Linked DNA regions of Homo sapiens. The protein of the gene in region 3 interacts with the protein of the main gene of each other region in a pairwise test. Each region holds a gene or a part of one and is shown on either strand. Other genes may lie near its edges. The genes, in order: NDOR1, QRICH1 and NLK.

Region 1 (9,156 bases), on a different chromosome or scaffold from region 3:
GCGTGGTGACACACACCTGTAATCCCCACTACTTGGGAGGCTGAGGTTGGAGGATCGCTTGAGCCCAGAAGGTCAAGGCTGCAGTGAGCTGTGATTTCAAGACTGCATTCCAGCTTGGATGACAGAATGAGACCCTGTCTCAACAACAAAAAAGGCCGGGCACGACGGCTCACGCCTGTAATACCAACACTTTGGGAGGCCGAGGTGGGTGGGTCACTTGAGGTTAGGAGTTCGAGACCAGCTTGGCCAACATGGTGAAACCCTGTCTCTACTAAAAATACAAAAATTAGCCGGGCATGGTGGCACGCACCTGTAATCCCAGCTACTTGGGAGGCTGAGGCAGGAGAATCACTTGAACCTGGGAGGCGGAGGTTGCGGTGAGCTGAGGTCGCACCATTGCACTCCAGCCTGGGCTACAGAGTGAGACTCCATCTCAAAAAAAGATGAGAAATCCTTCTAGAAAGTATGACAAAAAGCAAGATAGAAAATGGAAGGAAGCAGATACCAAAATTCGAAGATAATTCCAGTGGCCTCAGAATGAGAAGACAATGGTGGAGAGGAAGTTATCCAGGAAAGTAATGATGTCTAGAGCGGGGTCTGCGGCCAGAGAGCCCCATGCCCAGGAAGGGCCCTGCTGAGAATGAAAGGGCTACCCCCGGGGCATGTCACTGTGGGTTTAGCCTCTGGGGACAGAGTGCCCTACACACCCCAAGGGCAGCAAGTGGGGCCCTGGCTTTTCAGTGGTGGTGCCAAGCCCAGGACAGACCCAGCCGCATGCCAGTCGAGTGAGGGAAAAGTCACAAGAATGTTCTCTCCAGAACCCTTTTCTCGGGAAGGAGGAAGTTCACCAAACGGAGCAGGGAAGAGAGTCTTTTGGGATTCAGGAAGCAAGGGTGTCTCAACAGCAGGGCGCTAGGGAGGGTCTCGGGGGCAAGAGGCTGGGTACATTTGCTCGCATAGCGTGGCCCAGAGAGGCAGCTGATGAGGCAGTGAGGTCCCGGGAGGCCAGGGGTGGTCCAGGGCCAGGGTCAGAGCTGTGGGCTGACAAGGCCAGGGCCTCCCTGTCTGCTAGCCTCCATGCTTGGCCACGGGAAGGGGAGGTGGGTGGGCGGCGAAGACCACGCACACAGGCCACCTGGGATCCAGGTAGGGAGGGGGCAGTAGGTTCCTTGGGGGGGCCTCTGATCAAGCTGGGAGGACACCGTGGAAGGCACGGTGTGGAACCAGAGGATCTGGACCCTGTTGGCTCGAGGTCCTGCAGCCACGGAAGGAGGGGGATGTGTCTCAGCGACACTGGAACCTCAGAGGGCCGAGTGTGAGAGCCCTTGGGATGGACCTCAGAGGTCTGAGTATAGGAGCCTCTGGGACAGACCAACTCAGGGAGTGGAGGCCCACGCTCTGGCTGGGAAATGACAGGTGGAGGTGAGGGACCCCTGGGGCGGTGGACAGTTTGGAGACCAAGTGCAGAGCTGCTCCTGGCAGCTCAGAGCCTGGGGCAGAGGAGGGTGATGTCCCAGGAAGGAAGCTCCACGCAGGCCTGTAGAGCACAGCAGGGTCTGGCTCCTGTGGGCAGGGTGGGACCTGGTCTCCCTAGACGCTGGACCAGCCCTGCCTCCTCCCGGTGCCCATCATCCTGCAGGCTGGACCTGGGCCCTGCCTTTTGGTCAGATAGGTCCAGTTGTATTCTGCCCCCATCCTACCCACCTGCCTGTTCCCCTGAGACCCTCCCCTCACCCCCTGCTGTGGGGCTAGCCTAGAGGTCGAGGACTCTGACTCAGAGTTTCCTCCGGCTGTAGAACTTCTGGAGGTTTATATTCCGGAAGAACCTGCCCTCCACTGCCCTCTGTCAGATGGACTTTGCCGTCCTGGGCCTCGGGGACTCCTCATACGCCAAGTGAGTAGGGGATGGGACAGTGGGCGGACGGAACAGTTCTGGGGGTCGAGCAACAGGTGTGCTGGCAGAGGACCGAGACCAGCTTCCAGGGTCGGCCCCTGCGCGCCTCAGGGCCCTCGCAGTGGTACTGGCTTCTCCACAACGCTCCCTGGTGGGCACCCCAGGCTTCACGCTGCGGGGAGGGCACAGAGGGGAGCAGGCAGGGTGGCAAAGGGCTGGGCTCCAGCCACGCTGACGTCACACAGGCCTACCTGGCGCCGGTCCCCACTTTTACAAAAAGGCGTGCTGTGAAGTGTTGACGACTTTGAGCCTGGAGGAGGACCCCGTATGCTCCTGCCACCCCAGAGGCCACCTCTGCCTTTTCTCCTGGGCATTTTCACAGTGCTCCTCTGCACCCTAAGCAAGGAGTGGCATGTTCAGTGTGCAAATGGCATCTTTAGACCCCACAACGGTGAAAACCCCGACTGTCCACGTAGGGCCCAGGTCCGCTGAGCACCGAGCATCAAAAGCCGTTTGCATAGCCAGGTGTCAGTCATTTCAGATGAAAAAGAACGGGAAGATCGGAGACAGCTCCCCCCGGTTCTGCCGGGAGGTTTTGTTCCGTGCGTGACGTAGGTCCGTGCATGACGTTGTTTCCTGCGTGACGTTGTTCTGTGTGGGACACAGTGTTCGTTCAAGAGAGGGAGGGAGGCCGCTGCCGACAGCGTTCCCAGGGAGGAGCGTGACCCAGAGCCAGTCATGCCTCGGAACCAGAGTGAGAAGAGAAACTGACCCCCGGGAAGATGCCTGGCTCTCTCCCCAGCACAGAGTTTCTCAGCTGAGGAGTGACCCACATCTTGGCTGGGGGCCTGGAGGCCTCAGCTGCCTCAAGTCCCTGCCCAGGGATGAGGGCCCATCAGTGGGACGAGGCCGCCTGCTCCCACCCACACAGGCTCATTCTCTGCGAGCAGAGGACCTGCTGCTTGGCACCCTGGCAGCTGCCCTGGTCTCGGCAGCCCCTGGCGTGTGGAGGCCCTGCCCCCTCCTAGGGTGCGGCCAGCGTGGAGTGTGTTTTCCACCCGAGGGAGGCCCTCCCCAGGCTCCACTCTTCGCCCGGGCTCCACTCTCCCGGGTTCCACTCTGCCTGGGCACCACTCTCCGCCCGGGCTCCAGCCCAGGACCAGCCTCACTGTCTCCACAGGTTCAACTTCGTGGCCAAGAAGCTGCACCGACGGCTACTGCAGCTTGGGGGCAGCGCCCTCCTGCCCGTGTGCCTGGGCGATGACCAGCATGAGCTGGGGTGAGTCTGCGGGCGTGGTACCCGCCTCCACAGTCTGGTCTGGCCACACGCAGGGTCCGCTCAGGCCAGCGCACGTGCTCCCTCCCAGGCCCGACGCTGCTGTGGACCCCTGGCTGCGAGACTTGTGGGACAGGGTTCTGGGGCTGTACCCGCCGCCTCCGGGCCTCACTGAGATCCCTCCCGGAGTCCCGTGAGTGTGGGCCCCGGGTCACCCACAGGCGCAGCAGACCCAACCTGGCCTGGGGACCTCGCCCTGGGTCCCTCCCGTGTGGGTGGGCGGCCCCTGGGGAGTGGGTCCTGGTCTGACCAGCGTGCCCTCCCACAGCCTGCCCTCCAAGTTCACCCTGCTGTTCCTCCAAGAGGCACCCAGCACGGGCTCTGAGGGGCAGCGGGTAGCTCACCCCGGCTCTCAGGAGCCCCCGTCAGAGTCGAAGCCCTTCCTAGCACCCATGATCTCCAACCAGAGAGTCACCGGCCCCTCCCACTTCCAGGACGTTCGGCTGATTGAGTTTGACATCTTGGGCTCTGGCATCAGGTGGGGACTGCTGGGGACCGAGGAGGGCAAGGTGAGGTGGGCCGTGGGTCTGGGGTTCGGAGGAGGCTGGGCCGGGCTGCAGGGGATGACTTCTATCCGGGGCCCCGACATCCTCCCTGCGGCGTCCCCACAGCCCTGGTGGCTTCTTCCACACAGCTTTGCTGCTGGTGATGTGGTGCTGATTCAGCCCTCCAACTCGGCTGCCCATGTCCAGCGGTTCTGCCAGGTGCTGGGCCTGGACCCTGACCAGCTCTTCATGCTGCAGCCGCGGGAGCCAGGTGAGCCCAGCCTCGGCCACCCTGACTCTCTGCCCTCTCCCGTGCCCTGGGCCCCCACCCCAAGGGCTCCGCCGCAGCCCACGGAGGCCTCCCACTCACCCTGCAGATGTCTCCTCCCCCACGAGGCTGCCCCAGCCCTGCTCCATGCGGCACCTCGTGTCCCACTACCTGGACATCGCCAGCGTGCCTCGCCGCTCCTTCTTCGAACTCCTGGCCTGTCTATCCCTCCATGAGCTGGAGCGGGAGAAGCTGCTGGAGTTCAGTTCTGCCCAAGGCCAGGAGGAGCTCTTTGAATACTGCAACCGGCCCCGCAGGACCATCCTGGAGGTGAGATGGGAGGGCGGCAGGCCCAGCCCCTGAGCTACAGCCACGCTGCAGCCACCCTGAGACTCTCTTTGCCTAGGTGCTCTGTGACTTCCCGCACACAGCTGCCGCCATCCCTCCCGACTACCTGTTGGACCTCATCCCCGTTATCCGGCCGAGGGCCTTCTCCATCGCCTCCTCGCTGCTGGTGAGGGGCCTGGTGGTTGGAGCCCAGGACCGGCCCTGGGAAAGCTGGGACCGGGGCTGTGGGGTTTTGTAAGCAGGGGCTGCCCTCTGACCAGGTGACGTTCCCCCAGTCGGACTGCCTCTGCGGGAGGTAGGTGGGGCCCACGGCCCAGGCACAGGTGAGGGCAGCCTTGTTCCACCACCCCCACCCCGCCGTCCTCCCCAGACTCACCCCTCACGGCTGCAGATCCTCGTGGCTGTAGTGCAGTTCCAGACTCGCCTCAAGGAGCCCCGCCGGGGCCTCTGCTCCTCCTGGCTGGCATCCCTGGACCCTGGGCAAGGTGACCCCTGCTCCCAGGGTGGGGGCCGTGGGCCCATATCCCCTTCTCTCCCATGCTCATGCAAATGCTGGGCTAGGGCCCCAGCAGACTCAGCACAGGTCTTTGATCCTCTTCATGCCACCTCCTTCCTGCAATAGGACCTGTCCGGGTGCCCCTCTGGGTGCGGCCTGGGAGTCTGGCCTTCCCAGAGACACCAGACACACCTGTGATCATGGTGGGGCCTGGCACTGGGGTAGCCCCCTTCCGAGCAGCCATCCAGGAGCGTGTGGCCCAGGGCCAGACTGGTGAGCACCCAGGGTCTCCGGGCAGGGTTGTTGCCAGGGCTCCCCAGCTGAACCTCAAGGACCTGTGGCCAAGAGCACCCTGTATTTCCCTAGGAAACTTCTTGTTTTTTGGCTGCCGCTGGCGGGACCAAGACTTCTACTGGGAGGCTGAGTGGCAGGAGCTGGAGAAGCGGGACTGTCTGACCCTCATCCCTGCCTTCTCCCGGGAACAGGTGTGTATGCTCAGGGGCTGGGAAAGGAGGGGAGGGAGCTCCGGCTCAGCCCCCAGCCCTGTTCTCTGCCCTACAGGAGCAGAAAGTATATGTGCAGCACCGGCTCCGGGAGCTGGGGTCGCTTGTGTGGGAACTGCTGGACCGCCAGGGTGCATACTTCTACCTGGCAGGGTGAGCTGGCCTGCGTGCAGCAGGAGTGGGCCCAGCCCCTGAGTGCCAGGCCTCATTGCGCCTTCTGCGACCTGCCCCTCTAGCAACGCCAAGTCCATGCCAGCGGACGTCTCGGAAGCCCTGATGTCCATCTTCCAGGAGGAGGGTGGACTCTGCAGCCCGGACGCAGCCGCGTATCTAGCCAGGCTCCAGCAGACACGGCGCTTCCAGACAGAGACGTGGGCCTGAGGCCCGCGGCTGCCCGTGCCCCCTCTGACAGCCATCCTCCTGGGAGCCCAGGAAGGCATCCACGAGGGAGCTCCTGGCCAGCAGCCGTCATCCTCTCGGACCAGCCAGCTGGTCCTCTGGGAACAGCCAGCTCCCGAGCACAGCCGCACTCCTGTTGACCCTGGATCCCACCCTTTGAGCCTGACCCCACTGCAGCCTCTGCCCAGCCAGCCCTGCGCTCCCCCACCCTGACAGTGAGCTGTGTCCTCGTCCCCCCACCCCCTTCCCAGTCAAGGTGGTGGCCTGGGCCGCTCCACCTCACCGGTGCAGTGACCCAGGACGGCATCAGCAGCCCAGTGAGCACCAGGGGTGGCATAGGGCACCCATGAGGCTGCGCTGCACTCCTCTGCCCTGGGGCCACCTCGGCTGCTGCAGCCTGCCCAGCAGCACATTCCAGTCACTGCCCCCGCACTCCCACAGGGCTCAGGCTGGGCTCAGAGGCCACTGAGATGCCAGCTCCTTGAGAGCAGTGGGGGTGTCCCAGGCCAGAGCAGCCTCTTCCTCTCCTGGTCCCAGAAAAACCCTTGCAGTAAATGGTGGCCTCTGGGTGGTTACTTCTAGCGCAGGCTTCCTTCCTTCCTCTAGCTCCTCCCGGTGCCCTGGGTGCTGGGTGCTGGATGGATGGGCGTCCTCTAGCTCCTCCCGGTGCCCTGGGTGCTGGGTGCTGGATGGGTGGGCGTCCTCTAGCTCCTCCCGGTGCCCTGGGTGCTGGGTGCTGGATGGGTGGGCGCCACGGTGCACCCTTGTTGGGCTGCCTGTGCCCGAGTGGCCTCTGCAGCTCTTATGTCTGCCTCTAATGGGATGTGCGCCCTGACTGCCTCGTTCTTAAGGGCATAGTGGGTCGGCTAAGATCTGATCGCCAGGACTGCGTTCTGGGCAGGTGCTGGGAAGGCGGAACCAAGCCGTCCGTGCCGCTAGGGAGCCGAGACTGCCGGAAAGAGGAGCGGCAGGAGGGGGCGTGGTTGTGCAGCCCCACCCCCGGGAGGGGCTTTAGGCACTGGGAAGGAAAGTCCTGTTGGAGGAGTTCGGTGGCTGTTCACACCCGCCTCGCTGTCTTGGAGTCTTGATCTGTCGTCGGCGGGTCGCTGGCACAGGACTAAACATGGCTGAGGCTGGGCTCCAGCCAGATCTGGCTGGGGACAGCACCGCGTGGGCCCAGGATCCACCCAGAGCAGGCAGGCCTTGCTGGGGCCCCAGTCAAGTCCACTTCCAGTGAGGAGAGCCAGCCGGGAGGTCAGTGCCAGAGCTCTGGTGGAGCCCAGACCCTGCCTTCCCTGAGGGCCGCCCCTGTCGCCGCCCTGGGGTCCCTGTCCTCCTATCCTGACTCCTGCCCCAGGGCCACCACCCCTGAACTGTGCCCTGGGGCCCCCACCCTCCACCTGGCCGACTCCAGCTCTGGGCCTGTCAGTCCACCTGGGTCCTCTCTGGGCCCTGAGTGCCTGGACCCTCTGTGCCAAGCACCAGCAAGCAAAGGGGATGACCTTGGGCACCCCCAAGGTGCTGAGACTACAGCCAGTGAGCCCCTGCTGGGGGCCAAAGCCATGGAGGGTGCCTGGGCCCTTCCAACCTGGAAGGAGGAGGGGAGAGAGCAGGCAGCAGGGCAGGGGGAAGAGGAGGAGTGCCCGATCTGCACAGAGCCCTACGGGCCCAGAGAGCGCCGCCTGGCCCTGCTGAACTGTAGCCACGGCCTGTGTGTGGGCTGCCTGCACAGGCTGCTGGGCTCGGCCTCCAGTGCCGACCTGGGCCGGGTGCGCTGCCCGCTGTGCCGCCAGAAGACGCCCGTGCTGGAATGGGAGATCTGCCGGCTACAGGAGGAGCTGCTACAGGCCGACGGGCCCTCACGCCAGCCCCGCCGAGAGGCCCCTGCATCCTATCACCGCAACCCTGGGCCCTGGGGCTCCCTGGAGCACCGCTACCAGCTGCGCTTCCTGGCAGGGCCCGTGGGCGGCCGGGGCTGCCTGCCCTTCCTGCCCTGTCCACCCTGCCTGGGTGCCCGGCTCTGGACCCTGCGGGAGCGGGGACCCTGTGCCCGCCGCCTGGCGCTGCTGAGCCTGCTGGCCCTTGAGCTTCTGGGGCTGCTGCTGGTCTTCACGCCGCTCCTGCTGCTGGGACTGCTCTTCGTGCTCCTGGACCGCTCTGGCCGCTGAGCAGAGCCCAGGACAGCCCCGCCGCCAACAGGCCAGGGGGCCCAGACTGGCCCACGTCCCCATGCCTGGGTGCTGTGAGGCCTGATGACCAGGCTGGAAAAACCCAAGGTTGGGTCCAGGGCAGTGGCCTTCAATCAAGACCTCCCATTGCTGAACCCACAACCAGGGCTACCCAGAGGCCTGACCCTGCCAGAGTCCATGGCTGCACTGCTGCCCAGACACTAGCTGAACCCAAGGACACCAGCGCCCAAGGACAGCTCCTGGAGGAGGCCAGCCCAGCAGGAAAGTCTGTGAGCAGGACCCCATTCACCCTGCGGCAGACGGGCACCGTACTGGCCACGGGCTGACGCCGGCCACACTTCCCCTCCGAGGGCCAGCTGAGCACAGCAGGCATGAAAGCAAACAGAGATACAGCAGTGAGTCAGTTCCTTGGAGAGGGCAGGGACTCCGCCCACCCTGTGTTCAGATAAGGGCCAGTGTGTGTCCCTGAAGGTCAGGCCAGCCGGGGGAGGGGTCCATGCTGCGAAAATTCAGCCTGCAAAGGCTCCTCTCCCCACTTGATCAGGCCCAGACCAGGTGGGGGTTGGCGCTGGCCTGTGTTGCAGGGGACAAGGGCCCACCCAGGCCTTGGAACATAAGCTCTGCCCCTGCACACCCTCATGTCACCACACCTGGGATGGAGACATCAGGTGGCCCAGCGAGAGATGGAGGACTGATCCTGGAACGTGAAGCAGCTTTCAATAAACCAGCTCCTGGGGATGCCATTGTTACTACTTGTCTTTGTTACCCCATCTTCACCATCTGGGCGGGCTTTTTTTTTTTTTTTTTTTTTTTGAGACAGAGCGTCACTTAGTCACTCAGGCTAGAGTGCAGTGGCACGATCTCTGCTCACTGCAACCTCCACCTCCCGAGTTCAAGCAATTCTTTTGCCTCACCCTCCTGAATAGCTGGGATTACAGACATGCACCACCACACCTGGATAATTTTTTTTGTATTTTTAGTAGAGAAGAGGTTTCACCACGTTGGCCAGCCTGGTTTTGAACTCCTGACCTCAGGTGATCCATCCGCCTTGGCCTCCCAAAGTGCTGGGATTACAGGCGTGAGACACCGCACCCAGCCTGGGGCGGGCTCTTCCTCCCACCCAAGTGGTCCAGGTGCCAGACAGGAGGCGCTGGGTCCTTATTCCCCTACCACCATTTCAGCCAGTCTTTGTCCCTAACTCCTGCACATGCCCAAAGGCTACTCCCACACAACCCTGG
Region 2 (11,994 bases), on a different chromosome or scaffold from region 3:
CCTCTGAAGAACACTGGCCCACTAAAATGAACTCCAGAAAGGATCTTCTCCTGCTGAAGACCCAGACATGGAAATTATAAACAGAGACCACTAAGTACCAAATGAGGCACTGACCTGCAATTGGACCATCAGGCCCAGGAGAGCTAGGGGAGGCCTAATGGGCTCCATCTCTGTGAACAAAAGCTGAGCATAGAGACCTGTTACAAATCTACTGGCTAGTTTCTCCTATATGCAGTCAATTCTACACACATCTACTTGATTCCTCCTGTTACCACAAATCTAGGAAATTCCTGATTTCCTACCACAGATTAGATCAAACTCAGTTCTACTTTGGGAAGGCAACAACCCCACCCCCACCCCTCAATACTAACTCCATTCTCACAGTTCCCTTCTCAAGTTGCATTAGGGCATGTCCCTTCTGTCCATCCTTGGCTCTGTATTTATGCTGTTCCATTCTTTTGTTTATCTAAACTATAAACTACAGTTCAACAGTTCAAGGCAGGGTGCAGTGGCTCATGCCTGTAATCCCAACATTCTGGGAGGCCAAGGTGGGAGGATCACTTGAGGCCAGGAGTTCAAGAGCAGCCTGGGCAACACAGTGAGACCCTGTCTCTACAAATATATATATATGCCGAGTGTGGTAGTCTGTGCCTATAGTCCCAGCTACTTGGGAGGCTGAGGCGGGAGGATTTTATGAGCCCAGGAGTTAGAGGCTACAGTGAATTATGATCACTACCATACTCCTACCTGGGAAACAAAGCAACAACCTGTCTCAAAAATAAATAAACTACAGTTCAAACGTCATTTTGTCCACAAAGACCTCTGTTGACTTCTTAACCTAGAATTTCTAAATTCCCAGTTTGTCTTTGTGTATATGTCATAATTATTCTGCCTTATAAATAATTCGAAGGAAAAGAAATCCTGAGTTCTTACTTTTCACAACTAGACTCTAAGCTATATGAAGCAAAAAACCTTCTCTTATTCTATTTCTAGGCCCAACAGCTAGATATTTAGCAGGTCCTTAACAATGTCACCTAGGATAATATGATACTGCCTCTATGAAACCACCTGGTCAACCTTTGCTTAATTAATCACTTACAGCCCATGTTTCCAAGTGCAGTCCCTTATCTAACTTGTTTGTACCAGCTCCCACAAACATATGCATGCTCAGGAGCCTATGCCCACCGAGGCATAGCACCTTCATCAGTCCCATAAGACCAGAGGCCCTATATCCCACTCTAACGGGACCAGATATTTTACCAATCAGTTCTTTTAGACAGGGTCTCACTCTGTTCTCTAGGCTGAAATGCAATGGCATGATCATAGTAGCCTCAACCTCCCAGGCTCATGCAACCCTCGCATCTACGCTGGGACCACAGGTATGTGCCATCACACTAGACTATATTTTTTAAATTTTTGTAGAGATAGGGTCTTCCTATATTGCCCAGGCTGATCTCAAACTCCTGGGCTCAAGCATTCCTCCCACCTCAGCCTCCCAGACTGCTGGGATTACAGGCAACTGCCACTGCACCCAGCACTAATAGTTTTTTTGTTTGTTTGTTTTGAGACAAAGTCTTGCTATGTTGCCCCAGGTTGGAGTGCAGTGGCACGATCTCAGCTCACTGCAACCTCTGCTTCCCAGGTTCAAGCAATTCTCCTGCTTCAGCCTCCTGAGTAGGATTACCTGGGATTATAGGTGTGTGCCACCACACCCGGCTAATTTTTGTATTTTTAGTAGAGACGGGGTTTCACCATGTTGGCCAAGCTGATCTCAAACTCCTGACCTCTGGTGACTCACCCGCCTTGGCCTCCCAAAGTACTGGGGTAACATGCATGAGCCACCGTGCCTGGCCCCTACTTTTTTCTTTTGACAGAGTTTTGCTCCTGTTGTCCAGGCTGGAATGCAATGGCGCAATCTCAGCTCACTGCAACCTCTGCCTCCTGGGTTCAAGTGATTCTCCTGCCTCAGCCTCCCGAGTAGCTGGGATTACAGGTACCTGCCACCATGCCCAGCTAATTTTTGTATTTTTAGTAGAGACGTGGTTTCATCATATTGGCCAGGCTGGTCTCAAACTCCTGACCTTGTGATCCGCCTGCCTCGGCCTCCCAAAGTGCTGGGATTACAGAAGTGCACCACCTCGCCCGGCCGCCCCCGTAACACAAAAACTCTTGGGAGGTCCCACCACATAGACGGCATATTCAAGCCTCCCAATGGTGATCACTTTTAACAGGCTCCTTATGAGTTATTTTAGCTTTTCTAATTCACCCACACTGTGTGCCCAAAGATGAAAAACAGAATGAACAATCTCACAGCCTCTCCAGTGATGAGTTTGTAATCTATGTGATAAACTACAAGTGTTTTGCTAAAACCATTTACTTATGATACAAGGAAACAGCACTGGGACACACTTGAGGTGTCCCATTCATCTACACCTGTAACTTTACTCTTCCTGAGAAGAGATTACAAAGAAGTGTCCATGGTACTTAAACCCAAAATGTCTCCAAAACTCCAAAGCAATTCCTGGCCATCTCATTTACCTCCAGGTACCAGGATAAACTCTTTTTTCTGTTGCATAGCCTCACGTGATGTTTCTCCCCCTCTTCTCCCAAATACTAAATACTGCATCACTGTAAGAGTAACAGCAGTAAATAAGCCAGAGGTTGCGAGGCAAGCTCTGTGCTGCACTGGGCCCTGAGGGACCAGGCTGCCTGCCCTACTGATAAGTCTTCACTTACTGAACAAGTAACTTGGAGTTGCTGCTGCTGCTGCTGTGGTGGTGGTGTCTGTTCCTGGGGAGTTTGCTGCTGCGGCTGCTGTTGGGGGTCCCATATATGGACAGTTTGAGCCGTATTCTGGTACGTGCCTGCCACAGCCTGCACAGCCACTGGAATGTGGATGTTGCCATTCATGAACTGTGCTGGAAAGAGAGAGTTTGCAAGGGTCTGCACTACCTCTTCATGGGAGTTTTTCACTACAGATGTGGTGCCCACCATCTTCTCCTTGTCATCCTCCAGCTTAACAGCTGCCAGGGCTGTGGGTGAGCCACTGACGTGAACTGCGTTGTAGGCTTCCTGGGGAATGGCAATGTGGGTAATGCTCTGCTGCTGAGGGTCCCCCCGGGGCTGGGCAGAATAAACAGGGATGGTCCAGGTTTCTCCTGTAGGGCTAGTAATGGTCCCAGTGGCACTGTACAGGTGGGCACTGTCTACTGTCAGTAAGTCTGGCCTCAAAGACACATAACTCTGCTGCTGGCCCTGTGGAATGGCCAGCACGGTGGCCACCGGCTGCCCTGAGATGGCGTAGGACACAGTGATGGGCATGTCCACTTTGCGCTTCTTCACTGGTTGGAGGACACTGGCCGTGCCAACCCGCCGCTCCCCTTCCCGGGGTGAGCCCTGCTGGGATGGTGGTGGGGAAAGGGCACCCACGGTCTGGATTTGGATCTGCTGACCACCAGCAAGAGACTGGCCAGCCACCAGCTGAGCCTGGATTTGCTGATGTGGGATGTGCTCCTCCGGGATTTCTGCAGCCTGGATCTGCTGGGCTGCTTGCACGTGCTGCACCTGGATCTGAGCTGCTTGCAGCTGCGAGGGACTGGGACTCTGCAGAGACGGGGTCTGAATGGAGGGGGCTGCTGACTGTGGTGCCTGGCCTTGGATCTGCACCTGGACCTGGATGGGTTGCTCAGTAGGCTGGTGAACGGTGAGTTGTGGGGAGAGCTGAGCCGAGACCTGTTGCGGAGACTGCTGTACCTGCACCTGGACCTGTAAGCAACAAGATTCATCAGTGAGTGAACCAGGCAGCACTGAAAATCCAGTACCCAAGGAAAGAAAGAAAAGAGATCCCAGACAGGGGACCTGCAAAATGTGAGAAAACACTGGCATACTCAAGGCTTCTGAGAAGGACACAATACGTAAGACTAGATCCAGGATTGTCCAGCAGCACATTACAATAACAGGGACATATATCCACCCCAGAGAGCAAGCAAGACAATTAACTGGGGCCTAAAAAGGAAATACCAAAAAAAAAAATTTTTTTTTTTTAAGATGGACTCGCTCTGTCGCCCAGGCTGGAATGCAGTGGCGCAATCTCAGCTCACTGCAACCTCCGCCTGCTGGGATCAAGCGATTCTCCTGCCTCAGCTTCCTAGAGTAGCTGGGATTACAGACATGCTGGAGTCTAACAAGGAAATATCAAAACTTTGGTTCTTTTTTTTTTTCCCCAAATTCTCATTGTGTCGCCCAGGCTGGAATGCAGTGGTGCCATCTCAGCTCACTGCAATCTCCACCTCTCAGGCTCAAGCAATTCTTGAAGCCAGCCTCCCGAGTATCTGGGATTATAGACATGTGCCACCATACCCAGCTAATTTTTGTATTTTTAGTAGAGACGAGGTTTCACCATGTTGGCCAAGCTAATCTTGAACTCCTGACCTCAACTGGTCCACCCACCTCGGCCTCCCAAAGTGCTGGGATTACAGGTGTGAGCCGAAACGGCCGGCATTTTTATTTCCATTTTCTTTGAGGCGGAGTTTTGCTCTTGTTGCCCAGGCTGGAGTGCAGTGGCATGATCTTGGCTCACTGCAACCTCAACCTCCTGGGTTCAAGCAATTCTCTTGCCTCAGCCTCCTGAGTAGCTAGGATTACAGGAATGCATCACCATGCCCAGCTGATTTTGCATTTTTAGTAGAGACAGGATTTCTCCATGTTGGTCAGGCTGGTCTCGAACTCCCGACCTCAAGTGATCCGCCCACCTTGGCCTCCAAAACTGTTGAGATTACAGGCGTGAGCCACCACGGCCAGCATTTTAAAAATTGTTTTTGAAATGGAGTTTCACTCTTTTTTTTTTTTTTTTTTGAGACGGAGTCTCGCTTTGTCGCCCAGGCTGGAGTGCAGTGGTGCCATCTCAGCTCACTGCAAGCTCCGCCTCCCGGGTTCACGCCATTCTCCTGCCTCAGCCTCCCGGGTAGCTGGGACTACAGGTGCCTGCCACCACACCCGGCTAATTTTTTTTTTGTATTTTTAGTAGAGATGGAATTTCACCATGTTAGCCAGGATGGTCTCCATCTCCTGACCTCGTGATCCGCCCGCCTTGGCCTCCCAAAGTGCTGGGATTACAGGCGTGAGCCATCACAAGGGACCGTTTTTTTCTCTAAAGATAGGGTCTTGCTCTGTTGCCCAGGTTAGAGTACCGTGATAAGATGATAGGGCACTTTAAACTTCAAACTCCTCAAGTGATCCTCCCACCTCAGCCTGCTAAATAGCTAGAACTACAGGAACACCACCACCACACCCAGCTAATTTTTTTTTTTTTTTTTTAGACAGAGTCTCGCTGTTACCAGGCTGGAGTGCAGTAGTATGATCTCAGCTCACTGCAACCTCCGCCTCCTGGGTTCAAGCTATTCTCCTGCCTCAGCCTCCTGAGTAGCTGGGACTACAGACGCATGCCACCACCCCCAGCTAATTTCTGTATTTTTAGTAGAGACGAGGTTTCACCATGTTGGTTGGCCAGGATGGTCTCGATCTCTTGACCTTGTGATCCGCTCACCTTGGCCTCCCAAAGTGCTGGGATTACAGGCTTGAGCCACCATGCCTAGCCTTATTTATTTATTTTCTGAGATGGAGTTTCGCTCGTTCCCCAGGCTGGAGTGATATGGTAGTCACGGCTCACCGTAACCTCTGCATCCCGGATTCAAGCTATTCTCCTGCCTTAGCCTCCCAAGTAGCTGGGATTACATGTGCCTGCCATCACATCCAGCTAACTTTTTTTTTTTTTTTTTGAGACGGAGTCTCGCTCTATCGCCCAGGCTAGAGTGCAGTGGTGCGATCTCGGCTCACTACAACCTCCACTTCCCCGGTTCAAGCGATTCTCCTGTGTCAGCCTCCCGAGTAGCTGGGACTACAGGTGCGTGCCACCACGCCCGGCTGATTTTTTTATTTTTAGTAGAGACAGGGTTTCACCGTGTTAGCCAGGATGGTCTTGATCTCCTGACCTCATGATCCGCCCACCTCGGCCTCCCAAAGTGCTGGGATTACAGGCGTGAGCCACCACGCCCAGACCTAATTTATATATACATATATATGTTTTTGAGACCAAGTCTCGCTCTGTCGCCCAGGCTGGAGTGCAGTGGTGTGATCTCAGCTCACTGCAAGCTCCGCCTCCCAGGTTCATGCCATTCTCCTGCCTCAGCCTCCCAAGTAGCTGGGACCACAGGCACCCGCCACCACGACTGGCTAATTTTTTGTATTGTTATTAGAGACAGGGTTTCACCGTGTTAGCCAGGATGGTCTTGATCTCCTGACCTCGTGATCTGCCTGCCTTGGCCTCCCAAAGTGCTGGGATTACAGGTGTGAGCCACCACACCCAGCCCTAATTTTTGTATTTTTAGTAGAGACGGGGTTTCACCATGTTGGCCAGGCTGGTCCAAAACTCCTGACCTCAGGTGATCCACCAGCCTTGGCCTCCCAAAGTGCTGGGATTATAGGCGTGAGCCACCATACCCAGCCCCCAGCCTGATTTTTTGGGCAGAAGTCCCCAACCCTGGGGCCAAGGACTAGTACTGGTCCGTAGGCGAACGACACAGCACAGAGGTGAGCATTACCACCTGAGCTCCACCTCCTGTCAGATCAATGGTGGCATTAGACTCTTGTAGGAGCACAAACCCTATCGTGAACTGCAAATGTGAGGTATCTAGGCTGCATGCTCCTTATTAGAATCTAATGCCTGGCCAGGTGCATTGGCTCACACCTGTAATCCCAGTACTTTGGGAGGCTGAGGAGGGCAGATCACTTGAGGCCAGGAGTTCAAGACCAGCCTGGCCAACATGGTGAAACCCCACCTCTACTTCTACTAAAAATATAAAAAATTATCCAGGCATGGTGGTGCATGCCTGTAATCCCAATTACCTGAGAGGCTGAGGCAGAATAGCTTGAACCCAGGAGGCGGAAGTTGAAGTGAGCAGAGAGAGCACCACTGCATCACAGCCTGGGTGACAGAGTGAGCCTCCATCTTAAAAAAAAAAAAAAAAAAAAAAAAAAAAAAAAATCTAACACCTAATGATGTGAGGTGAAACAGTTTCATCCCAAAGCACCACCCCCATCAATGTCTGTGGAAAACTGTCTTCCACAAAACGAGTCCCTGGTGCAAAAAACGTTGGGGACCACTGCTTTAGAGTGCTTACTTAACATATGTTTAATGGGAAAGGCATTTAAATAAACAGAATCCCAATAATTTAATCTGAGCAATATTACCATAACCTGGATGACATGTTTCTGATAACAATACAGTTACTGTCTTATTATTATGTCAGCATGCAAAAGAGCATGAAAAGAAAAAAATACATAGTATGCAACTTTTAAAAAACAGCTTTTACCATCAGACACATAGATAAATTACCCTAACCACAAGTAGGAATTAGAAAGGTAGAAAACAAGAAGGCAGAAAATGAGGCCAGGCACAGTTGCTCATGCCTGTAATCCCAGCTCTGTGGGAGGCCAAGGTGGGTGGATCACCTGAGGTCAGGAGTTTGAGACCAGCCTGACCGACATGGTGAAACCCCGTCTCTACTAAAAATACAAAACTAGCCAGGCATGGTGGTGCATGCCTGTAATCCCAGCTACTTGGGAGGTTGAGGCAGGTGAACTACTAAACCCAGGAGGTGGGGGTTGCAGTGAGCCGAGATTGCACCACTGCACCACAGCATGGGCAACAAGAGTGAAACTATCTCCCAAAAAAAAGAATATATGCAAATGGCCAAGAACCACATAAAAAGTTGCTCCATATCATACTAGCTGTGAAGGAAATTCCAATCAAAGCCACAATGAGAAACCACTTTATATCTAATAAGTTATATCTAAAAAAGACAGATAACAAGTATAGGTAAGGATATAGACAACTTGAAACTGCTGGTGGGCATGTTAAATTGGTGTAGTTGGCCAGATGCGGTGGCTCACACCTGTAATCCCAGCACTTTGGGAGGCTGAGGCCAGTGGACACAAGGTCAGGAGTTCCAGACCAGCCTGGCCAACATGGTGAAACCCTGTCTCTACTAAAAATACAAAAATTAGCTGGGCGTGGTTACACATGCTTGTAATCCCAGCTACTCGGAAGGCTGACGCAGCAAAATTGCCTGAACCTGGGAGGTGGAAGCTAGTGAGCCGAGATGGCGCCACTATACCCAGCCCAGTCAAGGACAGAGTGAGACTCCATCTCAGAAAAAAAAAAAAACAAGAAAAAATTGGTGTAGTCGCTTTTTTTTTTTTTTTTGGGAGGTAAAGTCTTGCCCTGTTGCCCAGTGGTGGAATCTCAGCTTACTGCAACCTCCGCCTCCCTGGTTCAAACAATTCTCCTGCCTCAGCCTCCTGAGTAGCTAGGATTACAGGCACGCATCACCATGCCCAGCTAAATTTTGCATTTTTAGCACAGACAGGGTTTCACCATGTTAGCCAGGCTGGTCTCAAACTCTTAACCTCAAGTGATCCACCTGCCTTGGCCTCCCAAAGTGCTGGGATTACATGTGTGAGCCAGTGTGCCTGAATTATACATTTCAAATGGGTAACTTATATCTCAATAAAGCTGTTACTAAGTATATTTTTTAAAAAAAGGCCGGGCGCTGTGGCTCACACCTGTAATCCCAGCACTTTGGGAGGCCGAGGCAGGCGGATCATGAGGTCAGGAGATCAAGACCATCCTGGCTAACATGGTGAAACCCCATTTCTATTAAAATAATTAGCCAGGCGTGGTGACGGGTGCCTGTAGTCCCAGCTACTCGGGAGGCTGAGACAGGAGAATGGCGTGAACCTGGGAGGCGGAGTTTGCAGTGAGCCAAGATCGCGCCACTGCACTCCAGCCTGGGTGACAGAACGAGACTCCGTCTCAAAAAAAAAAAAGGCTCAGGTTTTGAGATCACAGACTTCAATGTGAATTGATGCTGCACTTTTCTGCCTGTGAATCCATGGGGAAATTTAACCTCTAAACAGTTTCTTTAGGTACAGTAAGTATAAAAGGGGAGAATGTCTACTTCCCTACAGTGTTTTAAACATAAAATAATATTTAGTTACAGATAATAGGTGTTCAAATAAGTAGGTTTATTATTTCTCTCCATGAAGTAAAATATTATTTCCTTGCACCAGTGGTTCTCAAAATGTAGTTTCCATGCCAACAGCAGCAGCAGCATCCAGGCACTCAGAAATACAAATTGTCAGGTACCACTCCAGACCTACTAACTCTGAAATTCTAAGAAGTGGTTTTATCAAGTCCTCCAGTGTAATTACATGGTCAAATTTAAGAACTAGGGCTATATGCCAAAGACATAAGAGGAAACTATGTAGCCAATTACTGCAGAACAGCAGTTTTCAAGATTTCTTAGTCAAAGCCTGAATTTGGGGCTGGGCATCGTGGTCATGCCTGTAATCCCAGCACTTTGGGAGGCCAAGGCAGGAAAACTGCTTGAGCCCAGGAGTTCGAGATCAACCTGGGCAACATAGTGACACCCCTATCTCTACAAAAAATTTTAAAAATTACCTGGGCGTGGACACACACCTGTAGTCTCAGCTACCTGGGAGGCTGAGGAAGGAAGACTACTTGAGCCCAGGAGATTGAGGCTGCAGTGAACTATGAACGGCACGTGCCACTGTACTCCAGCTTGGACAACAAAGTGAAACTCTAACACCAAAAAACTTGAATTTGGCCAAAAAATATTGAAGACCCAAAAGAACTTGTTTACATAGGTTATATCTAGTAATATTTACTTGTACTCTAAATTAAAACTAGGAATTTAATTTTTTAATTCTTTTTTTATTTGAGATGGAGTTTCACTCTGTTGCCCTGGCTGGAGTGCAATGGTGCCATCTCAGCTCACCGCAACCTCTGCCTCCCGGGTTCAAGCGATTCTCTTGCCTCAGCCTCCTGAGTGGCTGGGATTACAGGCATGCGCCACCATGCCTGGCTGGTTTTCTTTTGTTGTTGTTTTTTGTTTTTTATATTTTTAGTAGAGATGGAGTTTCTCCATGTTGGTCAGGCTGGTCTCAAACTCCCAACCTCAGGTGATCCGCCTGCCTCGGCCTCCCAAAGTGCTGGGATTATAGGCGTGAGCCACCATGGCTGGCCCTAATTTTTTTTTTTTTTTTTTTTTTTTGGAGACAAGAGTCTCAGTCTATCGCCCAGGCTGGAGTGCAGTGGTGTGATCTTGGAAGTACAACTTTGTCTTCCCGGGTTCAAGCGATTCTCTTAACCTCTGCCTCCCGAGTAGCTGGGATTATAGGTGCCCACCACCATGCCTGGCTGTTTTTTTGTTTGTTTTTGTATTTTTAGTAGAGATGGGGTTGCCCCATGTTGGCCAACCTGGTCTTGAACTCATATCCTCAAGCAATCCACCTACCGCATCCTCCCAAAGTGCTGAGATTACAGGCATGAGCCACCACGCCTGGCCCAAAACTAGGAATTTAAAAAATTGTAAACCATGCTGGGCGCAGTGGCTCACACCTGTAATCCCAGCACTTTGGGAGGCCAAGGTGGGTGGATCACAAGGTCAGGAGATCGAGACCATCCTGGCTAACACGGTGAAACCCCGTCTATACTAAAACAAAAAAAATTAATTAAAAATCAGATAAAGCCAGATGCAGTGGCTCATGCGTATAATCTCAGCACTTTGGGAGGCCAAGGCAGGCAGGGTCACATAAGGTCAGGAGTTCGAGACCCGCCTGGACAAGATGGTGAAACCCTGTCTGTCCTAAAAATACAAAAACTAGCCAGGTGTGGTGGTGCATGCCTGTAATCCCAGCTAATCAGGAGGCTGAGACAGGAGAACAGCCTGAACCCAGGAGGCAGAGGTTGCAGTGAGCGGAGATCGTGTCACTCATGCCAGCCTGGGGGACAGAGCAAGAGTTGTTCTAGAAAAAAACAAACAAAAATAAAGCCATTATATGTTAACATAAATAACATATTCTCATGAAAAATAACTATTTGCCAAAATAATTATAATAAGAATTGCATTGTTTTACATTTTTGGAAACCTCTTTTTTTTTTTTTTGGAGATGGAGTCTCACTCTGTTGCCCAGGCTGGAGTACAGTGAGGCAATCTTGGCTCACTCAGCTCAATGCAACCTTTGCCTCCTGGGTTCAAGCAATTCTCCTGCCTCAGCCTCCCAAGTAGCTGGGATAACAGGGGCATGCCACCATGTCCGGCTAATTTTTGTATTTTTAGTAGAGACAGGTTTTTGCCATGTTGGCCAGGCTGTTCTCGAACGCCTGACCTCAAAGTGATCTGCCCACCTCGGCATCCCAAAGTGTTAGGATTACAGGCGTAAGCCACTGCGCCTGACCCATTTTTGCAAACCTATTTAATGGCTGACTTAATATAAGGTAGCTGAATTCTCCTATCTGCTTCCGCACTCAATCTGTTGTGCTATTATACATCACACATGGCCTCTGCAAAACTCCAGTACATGGTCAGGAGAGAATGAAAGTGAAAAAGGCAAATTAATACATTGGCATTGTAATAAAAACAGCTTTGACCTTGAGGAACCCTAAAAGGTGCTTGGAGGCTACCAGGAGTCTCTCTCTTTTTTTTTTTTTTGAGACGGAGTCTCCCTCTGTCGTCCAGGCTGGAGTGCAGTGGTGTGATCTCAGCTCACTGCAAGCTCCACTTCCCGGGTTCACGCCATTCTCCTGCCTCAGCCTCTCAAGTAGCTGGGACTACAGGCACCCGCCACCACGCCCGCTAATTTTTGTTTTGTATTTTTATTAGAGATGGGGTTTCACCGTGTTAGCCAGGATGGTCTCGATCTCCTGAACTCATGATCTGCCTGCCTTGGCCTCCCAAAGTGCTGGGATTACAGGCCCCTACGAGTCTCTTGAACTACCATTTGTGAATCACTTCTGGCCAGGAATGGTAGCTCATGCCTGTAACCTCAGCACTTTGGGAGGCTAAAGCTGGTGGACTGCTTGAGCTCAGGAGTTCGAGACCAGCCTGGGCAATGTGGTGAAACCCCGTCTCT
Region 3 (11,473 bases):
ACTTTTCTATTAGAACCTAAGCAAGCCACTGAACACAGGATCAGTAGATGAATGTATGCAATACTAATTCCTACGAAGACCTTGGTCATCTCGTGTGTTTGATTCAGTGGCCCTGTGGCATTAAGTGTTAGCACCTGATCCAGACTGAATTCCTTTATAATACTCTTGTCATTAGGATATACTTTGCATAACTACTTTCCTGTCCTTTCTGTCTTTTCACTTATTTTGTGATCTTGATCTCCAGAAGAAAGATAGGATTCATAGTTGAACCAGTTAAGATCATTGCTTGAGTGGTTTATTTTAAACCATAAAGCTACAGTTGAGAAGTATGTAGCTGTAGCCTTTTGATAAGAATGCATTAAATATAGCATCACACATGAGTACCACAAATGAGGTTAGTAGACTAGCTATGCAGTGGCCCACATTCAGTGTAATGTTTTAGTGTCATTTAGTGCCTCTTAAGTTGCTGTTATCTGTTGGTCAGTTGCTGTAGTAGGAAATAATACTTTTTTAACAAATGACCCTACCTTTGCTAGTGCTAGGATATTTGTAAAAGCCTAAGGGCTTCTTAAATATAACATTTTGGTCTATTTGGTCTAACCTTAGAAAGATTAGTAGTTTATAATAAAATATGTTTGTTCCTATCAAAACTAGAATGAACTGGGTTTTCTCCCAAGGACTAATGATTCCACTTTGGATAGATGAATTGATATTTTCAGTGCATTCAAAAATTGTTACTCCCGAGAAAAGCGCCCATTACCACAGGAAAATGAACTCTTTGGAACTAGCCCGGTAAATATCTCCTTTCGTCATTGTTTTTGAGGCTAAAATTGATGGGTGCATTGTTTATGCATTTTAACTGGCCATCTTATTTATATTTCAGATTTGATAATCTAGGCTGCTAAGTGATCTCATCCATTTTTTAAAAAAACTAGTAGAGTCCAGTGTTTTCTCAGCTAGTCCCCAAGGAAGTTTCTGCTGCAGCGTGGTCCTTTCTTCAAGGTGTGTGGGATTCAAGGTGGAAAAGAGTATAGCTGGTAATGGTGCCTTGGTCATTCTGCTCAGGGACCTGCCTGTTCCTGCCTTCCTCTCTTCCCTTCCACAGACTATCTCAGAGATTTAACTGTGAACTTATCCTTGCCTAACTCTTGAGGATTTCCAAGCTTTGGTTGGGGGATGGAACAGACAGGAAAACGGTTGTTCCTTGGTTTAAATTTTGTCATTGATTTACTAATAACTTTTAGCACTTGTTTGGATCTTCTTAGATCTGGATGCTTACTTTCTTTTTTAGTGCCTTACATACAATGCTAAAAACTAGGGATACTGAAAGGGAAATGGGTTGCAGCATTCTTGAATATATTCAAAAGGCATTTTTCACTTACATTTCTATCAAAAAGTGATGTGACTTGTAGCAGTTTTTATTTTATTTATTTATTTTTTTAAGGAAGGGGGCAATAAAGAACTGGAGTGCTGAAACATCTCACACAGCAAACGTTCTGCTAGTGGGTACTATGAATCTTTGATATCTGAAAGCCCACATATATTTGGTTTGAAGCCATTCTAGAGGTTTTTAATTGATTGACTGCTCTACCACCTATGGAGTTTGTCTCATGTACTTAAAGTACACCTCTGTGCACCATCTTACTTCAGGTTTGTCTTGTGTCACTGACTACATTCGTAAGCCCCTTGAGGGTAAGGATTGTCTACTGTAGTAATCCTTTTCTCCTCAGCGCCTAGCACAGTGCTTTGGCATCTTTGCTGCTTGGTTAATTGATCTAGTCAGGTCCTTCTTTGTTTTGGCTTAAACAACAGAAAATTATTTCTCACAGTTCTGGAGGCTAGAAATCCAATATCAAGGTACAGGTTTGGTTTCTTTTGAGGCCCCTCTGCTTGGCTTGTGGATGGCCGTCCTCCTGTGTTATCACGTGATTCGGGTCTTTGTTTTTTTAACCAAGTTTTTCTAGTTAACTGCATTGAGTGTTTTCATCAGCTGTTACAGGTGAAATACAATTTGGTATGAAAAAGGAAAGAGTTCCAGGTGTATGTTTTAGTATGCAAATGCTTTTCTATTTTTATATTTACATGTCAATGACTTGCTGTCTGAATTCCTTATTATATTTGAAATTTAACTGTTGTATGACCTAAGTAAGACTGTTTAGAGATTTGAAAACCAAACTACCGGGAATTGCACTAATATTCTGAAACCCAAGGTAAAGATATTAGTGAGGTTTTTTACTTTTTAACTGAAACAGAATGTATCTTTTTAATTTAGGAAGCACCTTATGAATTGGAAACAACTTTTTTCTAAAATGATTATAATGGAACATAAAAATGTTCTCCCAGTGATGCATCCTTTGATTGAAACCGCCATGTAACTAACTACCGGGGTATTATAAGATTCACTTAATTCAAACATATATTCATTTAATGCACTTTGCAAGTATTCTTCTGGAATAGCATATGACAAGAAACTGTATTTGCCCACATTTCCTTGGGGACATACACCCAGGGGTACTAACTGATGGCTAAAAAAGTGGCATGCAATTTTGAGAGAGATTGTTGTTTCTCCATGTAGACAAGGAGAGATATTTGTAGAAGTGATGCAGCATTTTACCAGATTTATCACTGAACAATTTAGTCTAGCTGACTTGATTTATCTTTCTGTTGAATTTAACTAGTGGAATAACTTATCAGTATTGGACAGTTGTGTAAAAGTAGTGAATTACTCATTAGCTTGCTGGTAAGGATGGTGCTGTGACAGTTCAATTAAGGTTTCATTAACAACTGTCTGCTGTATTTTATCTCAAAGTAAGAGTTCCAGTTTACCTGGTAATGTGATTGTGGGATAACCTGAGATAACATTTGTTGCCACTGATAGAATGTTGTTTATGGGTTATCAAGATATCATATACAATTTGACCTTCTTTTTGAGACATTACAGCCTCCAAACACCCACATGGACATTTTCATAATGCAAAAACAAAACACAAAGCAACCCACAAATAGTAACTTCAGTCATTTGGTGAGTAATATAAATCTACCTTTTTGTCTGCAGTTCACATTTGCCAGAGGAAAATGCTGTGGTTAAAGATGTAACAACTTTGGGACAAAGAGTTTCAGGGGCTCATAATTTTGAGAGATGGAGGAAGTTGACCGCATGAGAGTGGTTTGAGGATCGCTGTGCCTAGACCGTTTTTGACATTGGCAACTTAACATATCAGAGATGGAATTAATGGCACATATTGCCACCTTGGTAAAAGTGAGTCTGGGAAAAGACTTTTTTATAAAATTAGCATTTTGGTTTGTGACTTGCCTGATTAATTAAAAGATCAAAAATCCTGGGATTCACTTGCTCTGTTGCCTTTGTGTACTCCAAGTAATGTTGGAGGTCTTTGAATTTTATTATTCTAATAACTTCAGCAGGTTACTTTTATCTGTCTTTCAAAACTGTAGTGATAGTTACTAGCTCTGTGATCTCGATAAATTATTTGACTTCTCTGTTCCTCATCTATAAAATGGGGATAATAATAGTACTTATCTCAGGATTGATGTGAAGATTAAGTGAGGTAATTCTTGTAAACCAATGATTACACTGTCTAGCACACAGTAAGCATCAATAAATGTTAGTTGTTTTTATTGTAGTTATTGTTGGTAGAAAAATCAAGCTGTTGTGTTAATGTGCATGGAAGTGTCTTCATAGATTGTCAGATTTATCAGGTGAAATCAGCATGCAGACTATTTTTGGAGGCATGACTCTAAATAACGTAGCGTGTCCCCTCAGTTGTACTGTATGTCAGGGAGATTTGAAAATGGTTGAATTTAAAGCCAAGGGGAAAATACTCTGTGCTGTCCTGTCAACTAATTAAAAACAAATAAAAATAATACACATTTGTATGGACTTTGTAGGTGTTTTAGTCAGATCATCTGCACTGTTTTAGAAAGTATTATGGATTTATATACTGGGAAATTAATTTTTTCTTTTCAGAATGTAACAAATGAAAGACATCCTTATTGTCGAAGTAGAGATTCACTTTGCTTATGTTTGGATGAAAAAGTGTGAATTGCTAAAGATCCCAGTGAGGTGGGAGAAATATAGTGATTTAACAAAAAAATTACTCAGTATAAGCCCTTGTGCATGGTAGAGATTGTCTAGCTTGCTCATCTTGTGAACATGAGAGGCATCTTTTTTTCTTATGTTTTGTCTGGTCCTCTTACTCCACATAACAAACTAATTTGGAAAAATGCAGAATGCTTTTGGGATATGTTTGGGGAAAATCCTGGAGTAAGTTGCATCAGAAAGAGTAGTATACTAAAGGGTATTTTGTTATTAACTGTGTTTTACAGGTTGAGAATCTGTAGTACTGAGAAGTTTCTCCACTATCAGCCGAGATTAACAGCCACAGCTGGATTCTTTGGGGGCTCTGCTTTGTGAAAAGAGCTTTGAAGAAGCAGAGCCTGCACCATAAAAAGGAAACGGTTGCTCTTCTAGACATAACAAAGCATCCGTATGAAACTAGAAATGTGGAAATCTGTATTGTTAATTTTAACTACAAACGAACTTACTTTTGGAAATTACAGGTTCATGATCATAAAGTAGATAAAGAGTAGAGAATAAAAGTAACAATCTGATGATTCTGCACCCACTTCTTGGTGGTTGAAACTCCATAGCCTATAACGTTGCAAGTCATTTTGTACTTAGACTCCTGAAAAGATTATCCAAATTATGTTCAAAAAACCACAGCACAAAAAATAAACTTGTTTTATTCTTGGGGAGAAATTTCATGTTATACTGTCCAATATTAATTTAGAAAAAAAGACAGTTTTTTTTTTTAAGGCATTTCAGAAACATTGCCCTTTCAAGCAAGTTAGAACAATATCCCTCAACATTAAATACCATCTTTTTAGCCATCAGTACCACTGGGCATGTGTCATAAAAGAGAAATGGGGGCAGATATAGCTCCCTTTCATATGCTATACCAGAACAAAAATTTGTAAAATGCATAAGTGCATTAACTGAATATGTTTGAATTTAAATTCTGGGTTTTTACCTTCAAAGCACAGGCAGCTGTAGATACAAAAAGTCCTCTAATGGAGTACTGGAATGTTTCATTGTCTTCACAACTTGGAGTGTCAGAGTTTTCTCTGCCTTCTATATTGTAAAACTGAGTGACTATTCTTGGTCGTTTTTATTAGATTTATTGATGTCCAAGCAATACAAGAATTAACTGTTCATATACTGTATGTTTCCTTAACATGCTTATTTGGTTTCTTTGATGGAGATTGTCAAGGCCAAAGAAACTTTTTCATTTGTCATCCAACCAATAAATGGACAGAAGCTGTTAGAAGCTCTTTAATTATGCGTCTCTTTGGGTTTTAATTCTGAGTCCCTGTGCCTCTGTGCTACTCCAGTGAATTATTTGTTGATTGGGCCATCTAATACAGGTCAACAATAACTAAAATAGCTTGTCAGTGTGATCCTGATATTGCTTGGAAGTAACAGAGTGTCTGAGGCAACAGTTGTAACACTGTCAGTGAGCACATAACAAGTCATGATAGACATAGTCAGTAGTTGTAAGGTACCTAGTGCAGAAACAGAAAAAACTGGTACTCTGGCATTATGGAAAGATGACTTCTAAGTGAACTCTACTGAGATTGAACTTTAACTCTTAGTTGTAATGGTGTGAGTAGAGGGAGTATATATGGGGATGTCTGCCACTCATAATGATTGGTGCTCTTTACCTAAACCCAGTTTTGAAATAATTTGGCTAATTGAGTCATATCTACTATGAGGCAGTGAAAGTTTTTAACACCTTTGGAACTCACTAGTCTATATATTTTTATTGTCACTTCGCTGTGGACCAGCACTTTTGCAAGCACCAAATGGGGATATTTAGTCTTATAAATAATTTTGCGAACCTCTATTAAGCTGCTGCTGCTGTTGTCTGTATTGTGCTTAGTACTGAGGTATAGGGATGTTTAAGTCACCATATTGCTTTGGAGGAGTTGACAGTCAAGTAAACAATATGAACAATGAAACATGCCTACTCTCAGGGTGTCCTCAGCCTTGGTGGAGAGGTGAAACTAAATTTGAAACCATTAAATAAAAACTTAAGAATATATTATTTTCAGGCCAGGCATGGTGTCTCACGCCTGTAATCCCAGCACTTTGGGAGGCCGAGGAGCGGTTCACCTGAGGTCAGGAGTTCAAGACCCTCCTGACCAACATGGTGAAATCCCGTCTCTACTAAAAATGCAAAATTAGCTAGGTGTGGTGGCACATGCCTATAATCCCAGCTACTTGGGAGGCTGAGGCAGGATAATCACTTGAACGCAGGAGGCAGAGGTTGCAGTGAGCCAAGATCGTGCCGTTTCACTCCAGCCTGGACAACAAGAGTGAAACTGTGTCTCAAAAAATATATATATTATTTTCACTTGTTCTTACAATATTCAATTATTGTATGTTACTATTTGCCAGGCACTGTGCTGGAGATAAGGATTAAAGGTGATTATGACCTACTGGGTGAAATAGATTTGTAAATGGATTATTATAATTCATTGCCATAAATGCAGCAATAGAGATAGTCCCTGGACATTAAGGGCGTGTAGAGGAGGGATTTCTATGGAAGGTCAGGATGCTTCCTAAAATAGGTAATTCTTCAATGAGTTTTAAGAATGAGAGTCAACCAATGGGGAAGGGCAGTCTAGGTGGAAGGGCCTATATGCAGGAGACTACAGGGCTGGAGATGCTGAATGTGCAGTGCAGTGGGTGGTAGGAAGTGTAAGCTAGAGCTCAATCATGAAGAGGTTGGAATGTCATGCTTGAGGCACTAAAAACAGCTTTTTATTAATAAAGCATATGTGGACATATAGCACATAAACAGTTAAATAGCATATCTGTGGTATTAAGATTTTACGAGGGGATGATTAGGAAAATAGCCTAAAAAGGCTCCGTAGGCGGGCAATGATGAGAAAAGGTTAAAACTGCGAATGGCAACTACTGAAAGTTTTTAAGTAAGAGAGACTTCGTCAGATTTAATTTTTTTTTTTGGATATGTAAAATAGAAGAGTAGAGAGAACTGAGATCTGTCTGAGTCTTAGGGAATGTTCTCAGTTGTAGGTGGAAGAAGCTACTGGAAGCAGAACTAAAGGGCAGTTAGGAAAATGTGTTCACAATGATTGACAATCTAAGTATGGCAGAAGATTGTTAGGAAAATGGGAGTGATCTTTGGTGCTGATAAAAAGTCAAAGAAGGCCGGCCATGGTGGTTCACACCTGTAAACCCAGCACTTTGGGTAGCTGAGGTGGGCATATCACTTCAGCCCAAGAGTTCGAGACCAGCCTGGACAACATAGTGAAATCTCATCTCCACTAAAAGTACAGAAAAAAAAAATTAGCCTGGTGTGGTGGCACGCACCTGTAGTCCCAGCTACTCAGGAGTCTGAGGTTGCAGTGAGCTGATATCACACCACTGCACTCCAGCCCGGGCGACAGAGTCAGAACCTGTCTCAAAAAAAAAAAAAAAAAAGTCAGAAAATTAAGATGGAGAAAAGGCCAAAAGGCCATTGTATTTAGCCTGATAGTAAATAGATCATTGATGGCATTTGAGAGAGTGATTGTGTTTGATTGATTCTAAAGAATGTCTTAAGTATTCAGTATTACTTTTTACAATTTTTTAAAATTATTAATACAATTCTTCCAAATCTCATTTGTTTGTTTGTTTGTTTGTTTGTTTGTTTTTAGTTTAATAAACCAGAGAACTTGATGTTCAAGGTGCCATTTCCTTGGGAAGGATTTTTTTTTTTTTTTGAGACAGAGTCTTCCGCTGTCACCAGGCTGGAGTGCAGTGGCATGATCTTGGCTCATGCAGCCTCCACCTCCCAGGTTCAAGGGATTCTCCTGCCTCAGCCTCCCGAGTAGCTGGGATTACAGGCACGTGGCACCACACCCGCCTAATTTTTGTATTTTTAGTAGAGACGGGGTTTCACCATGTTGGCCAGGATGGTCTCGATCTCTTGACCTCGTGATCGGCCTGCCTCGGCCTCCCAAAGTGCTGGGATTACAGTTGTGAGCCACTGCGCCCGGCTTTTTTTTTTTTTTTAAACAATGGGGTAATAGATTACTAAACTAAACTTGTTAGGAGACAAGGTTCTGGTCCTAGCCTTGCTGCCAACAACCCTGTGACCTTGGTAAAGTTATTTAAACTTTCTGAGCCTTGGTTTTCTCATTTATAAAATCCTGTGTTTCCTAAGATTCTATTATAAAATGATATTAATATTTGTTGGAGTTTGCTGGTGACCACAAGACAACTTTCTCTCTTCAGGACTACAGTGTTGAATAGCTTCTAAAATTGTTTAAAGGAGGAATGAGATAAATGTCACCCTGTTCCAGAGTGGTGACTTTTATAGAGTTTTCTAATTTGGGATTAGATTTTAAATGTTCATTTTTTTTTCATCAAGAGACTTGTTTTCTTCTATTACTGAGTTATTGGTAAGGATTATACATGTAGTTCAGCTGTGGAGAAGAGCAGGCCTGTTTGCAAATGAGCAATTTCTTCTACATGTCCATTTGATACTACTATTTTCCTGATAATATTTACCTTTTTAGTGTTTTAGACTTTAAAAACTTGCTTAGTTTCTTATAAGTCTTACAATAGTTTTCTTACAATATTTTGAGTGATTTTTAAATTTTTAAATAAAATTTAATGTTCAGTATTTTGTCATCTTTTGTGTGTGAGTAATCAGGTAAGATGATTTGGGAGCCAGTGCTTACATTAATTTGCAAGTTTCTTTAAAACAAATTTCTTTCCAGGAGTCTCTTTTAAATTCTGAATTTGGATAAGAGAGTTACTAGTTTGCATGTGGGCCTCCCAGAAAATGAGCTTTGACACAGCTTTCAGGCTGTAGTAGTTTAGGGCTTACAGTGCCCAAAGAGGGAGAGTGACTTCCTAAAGCTCTTGTCCAAGAGGAAGGGAGCATTTTTGCAGACACCCTCAGCAAACCAGCAGTGCTATCCAGTAAATACATAGTGAAAGTATGCAATCTTAAATTTTCTAGTAGCCACAGTAAAAAACTGAAAAGAAACAGGTGACATTAATTTTAGTAATGTATTTTAACTCTATATCCAAAATATTGTCATTTCAACATGTATTCACTATAAAAATTATTAATGATCTATATTACTTTTTTTTCATACTGAGTCTGCAAAATCACTATGTATCTTCATGCTTAGAATATGTCTCAGTTTGGTCTAACCACATTTTAAGTGTTCTGTAGCCACACATGGCTACTGACCAGCACCAGCATATTGATCTCTGGTGTTTTTTTTTTTTTTTTTTTGAGACAGTCTTGCTCTGTCACCACACCTGGCTATTTTTTTTATTTTTTTGTGGAGATGGGGTCTCACTTTGTTGCCCAGGCTAGTCTCAAACTCCTGGGCTCAAGCAGTTTGCCCACCTTGACCTCCCAAAGTGCTGGGATTACAGGCCTGAGCCACCGCACCTGGCCTCTCTTTGGCTTTTGTTGGATTACATACTCATTTCTGAACCAGTCACTGTCAATGAAGGTAAGATTACTTTTGGAGCAATCAGATCCACTTCTGGACCTGGAGATGGAGTCAGTTTTAAATGGGAGGGATGAATACCAGCAGTAAATGCCAGGAATGCAGTCATTAATGACCAAGATACTGCATTTGTCTGACTTGTGTCAGACTCAGAAGAACTTGAGTGGGTATATTTATGGAACAAACTGGAATAATGATCTCTATAGAGAAGTCCTGTCTGTCCTGAGTTATTTGGAGGCATTTTTCCTTTTCTTTTCTGAAGCTTTGTTTGCCTAAAGTAGCAGAAGGTAAATTTGGTACCTGATCGTTGCCATGTTTGCTTTCCTTCCCAGTTAGAGCAGATATCTCCTATTGATTTCTCTTTTTATCCTCTCCGTATTGTGGTTTTGTTATCTGGATAAGGTTCTCAGTCTTGTTTTCAATTTAAGTAGTATAGAGCTCAGTAGTGTCAGGCAGCAGACTTCTTACAGGGGAATGGACAACACAGAAACTTTTTGTTTATCCATTCTTTGACCTAAAATTCTTGCTCTGAGCTACAGAAAAAAGGTGAAAAGAGACATTTGAACAAATAGATAAAATTAGTCATTTGACCCAGATTGCAGCTTTTCTTCCTGTCTGCATGGATAAAAATGATCCGTCAATTTACATAAGCAGGTGATTTTTCTTACATGCTAATTTTCTTAATGTACCATGGCAGAGAGTTGCAGATTTGCAAATTGTGTAAGTTAATTGAAATAAGCCAGGTGACTTTATTTCACTGTATTATCTTACCAGTACAAAAGTACCCAAAGGGTACAATTATCAGGTGATTGTCTCATTGCACATCTAAATTAACATGCAGCCTGGTGCAGAGGGTTTTTCCCCACTTTCTTCTCCACTTCCCTCTCTTTTCTAATTTTTTAAAATAGGAAACTTGATTTCTATATTTACTTCAATAGAGCTGGAAATTTAGTAATACAGATGCGGAGGAAATTTGAGCTTTATTAAAAGTAATCCAGAAGCTATAAAAATTGGCAAGTAATGTGGTTATTGTGCAGAAGAAGGGGCTTGGTTTGGGTTTGAATTGCCTCAGAGAATTATGTGAGCATCTTCAACCATGTTTAATTGATTGGCTTCCTCTGTGTTCATTTTCCCAGGTTCTGCAGGTTACAGTAATTGGGGTTATCCTGAAGTTAACTGGGTGTATACCATAGCCAGCGTTCAAAGTAAATATTGACAGGCATTCTTTTAAAAACACAAGCTAATTAATTATAACACTGTTTAAAACATTTTAATAAAATTGAAATTTTTGAAAGGTGCAACAGTTGGTTATAGGGATTCTTTGCAGAAGATTTATGAGGACAAATAATGTCGACCAACAAAGCACCTTTCTTTATTAAGACTTTCAATATTAAACTTAATAATTAATGTTACTTAATTTCTCAGATGTTATAATATTCACTTAGTGATATATACAGGGATTAAATTATACTCCTTATAGCTTTGAAATAATGATTTGGAAAAGAATCATAATTTTAAGCTAGTAAAAGTTGGGCCAGTCTTGTTTCAGTTTAAAGAAAAATAATTTACAGGAACTTTTAGAACAAAAGCAGTTAAAGAATGACCTGAGGAGAACATTTAACATTTAAAGGGATAGTATGATTTAGTAGTCAAGGCTGGGCGCATTGGCTCATGCCTGTTACTCCAGCATTTGGGAGGCTGAGACCAGAGGATTGCTTGAGCCCTGGGCTTTGTAGCAAGAGCTCATCTCTACAGAAAATAAAAAATAAAAATTAGCTGGGTGTAGTGGCACACACTTTCAGTCCCAGCTATTTAAGAGGATAACTCTCTTTAAATCCTAGCTCTGCCCCTCATTATCTGTGGGTAAATTATTTTATCTCTATGTACCTCATGGTCTTCATGTATACAGCGGAGA

What was found.
Region 1: the proteins of NLK (region 3) and NDOR1 interact in binary tests that used the Homo sapiens proteins (3 or more experiments, as listed by UniProt).
Region 2: the proteins of NLK (region 3) and QRICH1 interact in binary tests that used the Homo sapiens proteins (3 or more experiments, as listed by UniProt).

What each region holds. Positions count from the first base shown.
Region 1 is NC_000009.12:137,210,706-137,219,861, forward strand, and holds the end of NDOR1 (NADPH-dependent diflavin oxidoreductase 1), read left to right. Parts: intron 1-1,796; coding exon 1,797-1,894; intron 1,895-3,074; coding exon 3,075-3,173; intron 3,174-3,261; coding exon 3,262-3,363; intron 3,364-3,498; coding exon 3,499-3,708; intron 3,709-3,864; coding exon 3,865-3,986; intron 3,987-4,092; coding exon 4,093-4,313; intron 4,314-4,389; coding exon 4,390-4,497; intron 4,498-4,701; coding exon 4,702-4,816; intron 4,817-4,953; coding exon 4,954-5,100; intron 5,101-5,193; coding exon 5,194-5,312; intron 5,313-5,361; coding exon of another isoform or gene 5,362-5,388; coding exon 5,389-5,483; intron 5,484-5,566; coding exon 5,567-5,711; 3' UTR 5,712-7,291; coding exon of another isoform or gene 7,292-7,897; 3' UTR 7,898-8,656; downstream 8,657-9,156. Other genes in the region: ring finger protein-like, read left to right, coding at 7,292-7,897. UniProt on the Homo sapiens protein: NADPH-dependent reductase which is a central component of the cytosolic iron-sulfur (Fe-S) protein assembly (CIA) machinery.
Region 2 is NC_000003.12:49,054,126-49,066,119, forward strand, and holds part of QRICH1 (transcriptional regulator QRICH1), read right to left. Parts: intron 3,766-11,994; coding exon 2,737-3,765; intron 1-2,736. UniProt on the Homo sapiens protein: Transcriptional regulator that acts as a mediator of the integrated stress response (ISR) through transcriptional control of protein homeostasis under conditions of ER stress.
Region 3 is NC_000017.11:28,043,573-28,055,045, forward strand, and holds part of NLK (serine/threonine-protein kinase NLK), read left to right. Parts: exon of another isoform or gene 1-3,259; intron 3,260-4,344; exon of another isoform or gene 4,345-5,354; intron 5,355-11,473. UniProt on the Homo sapiens protein: Serine/threonine-protein kinase that regulates a number of transcription factors with key roles in cell fate determination. Positive effector of the non-canonical Wnt signaling pathway, acting downstream of WNT5A, MAP3K7/TAK1 and HIPK2.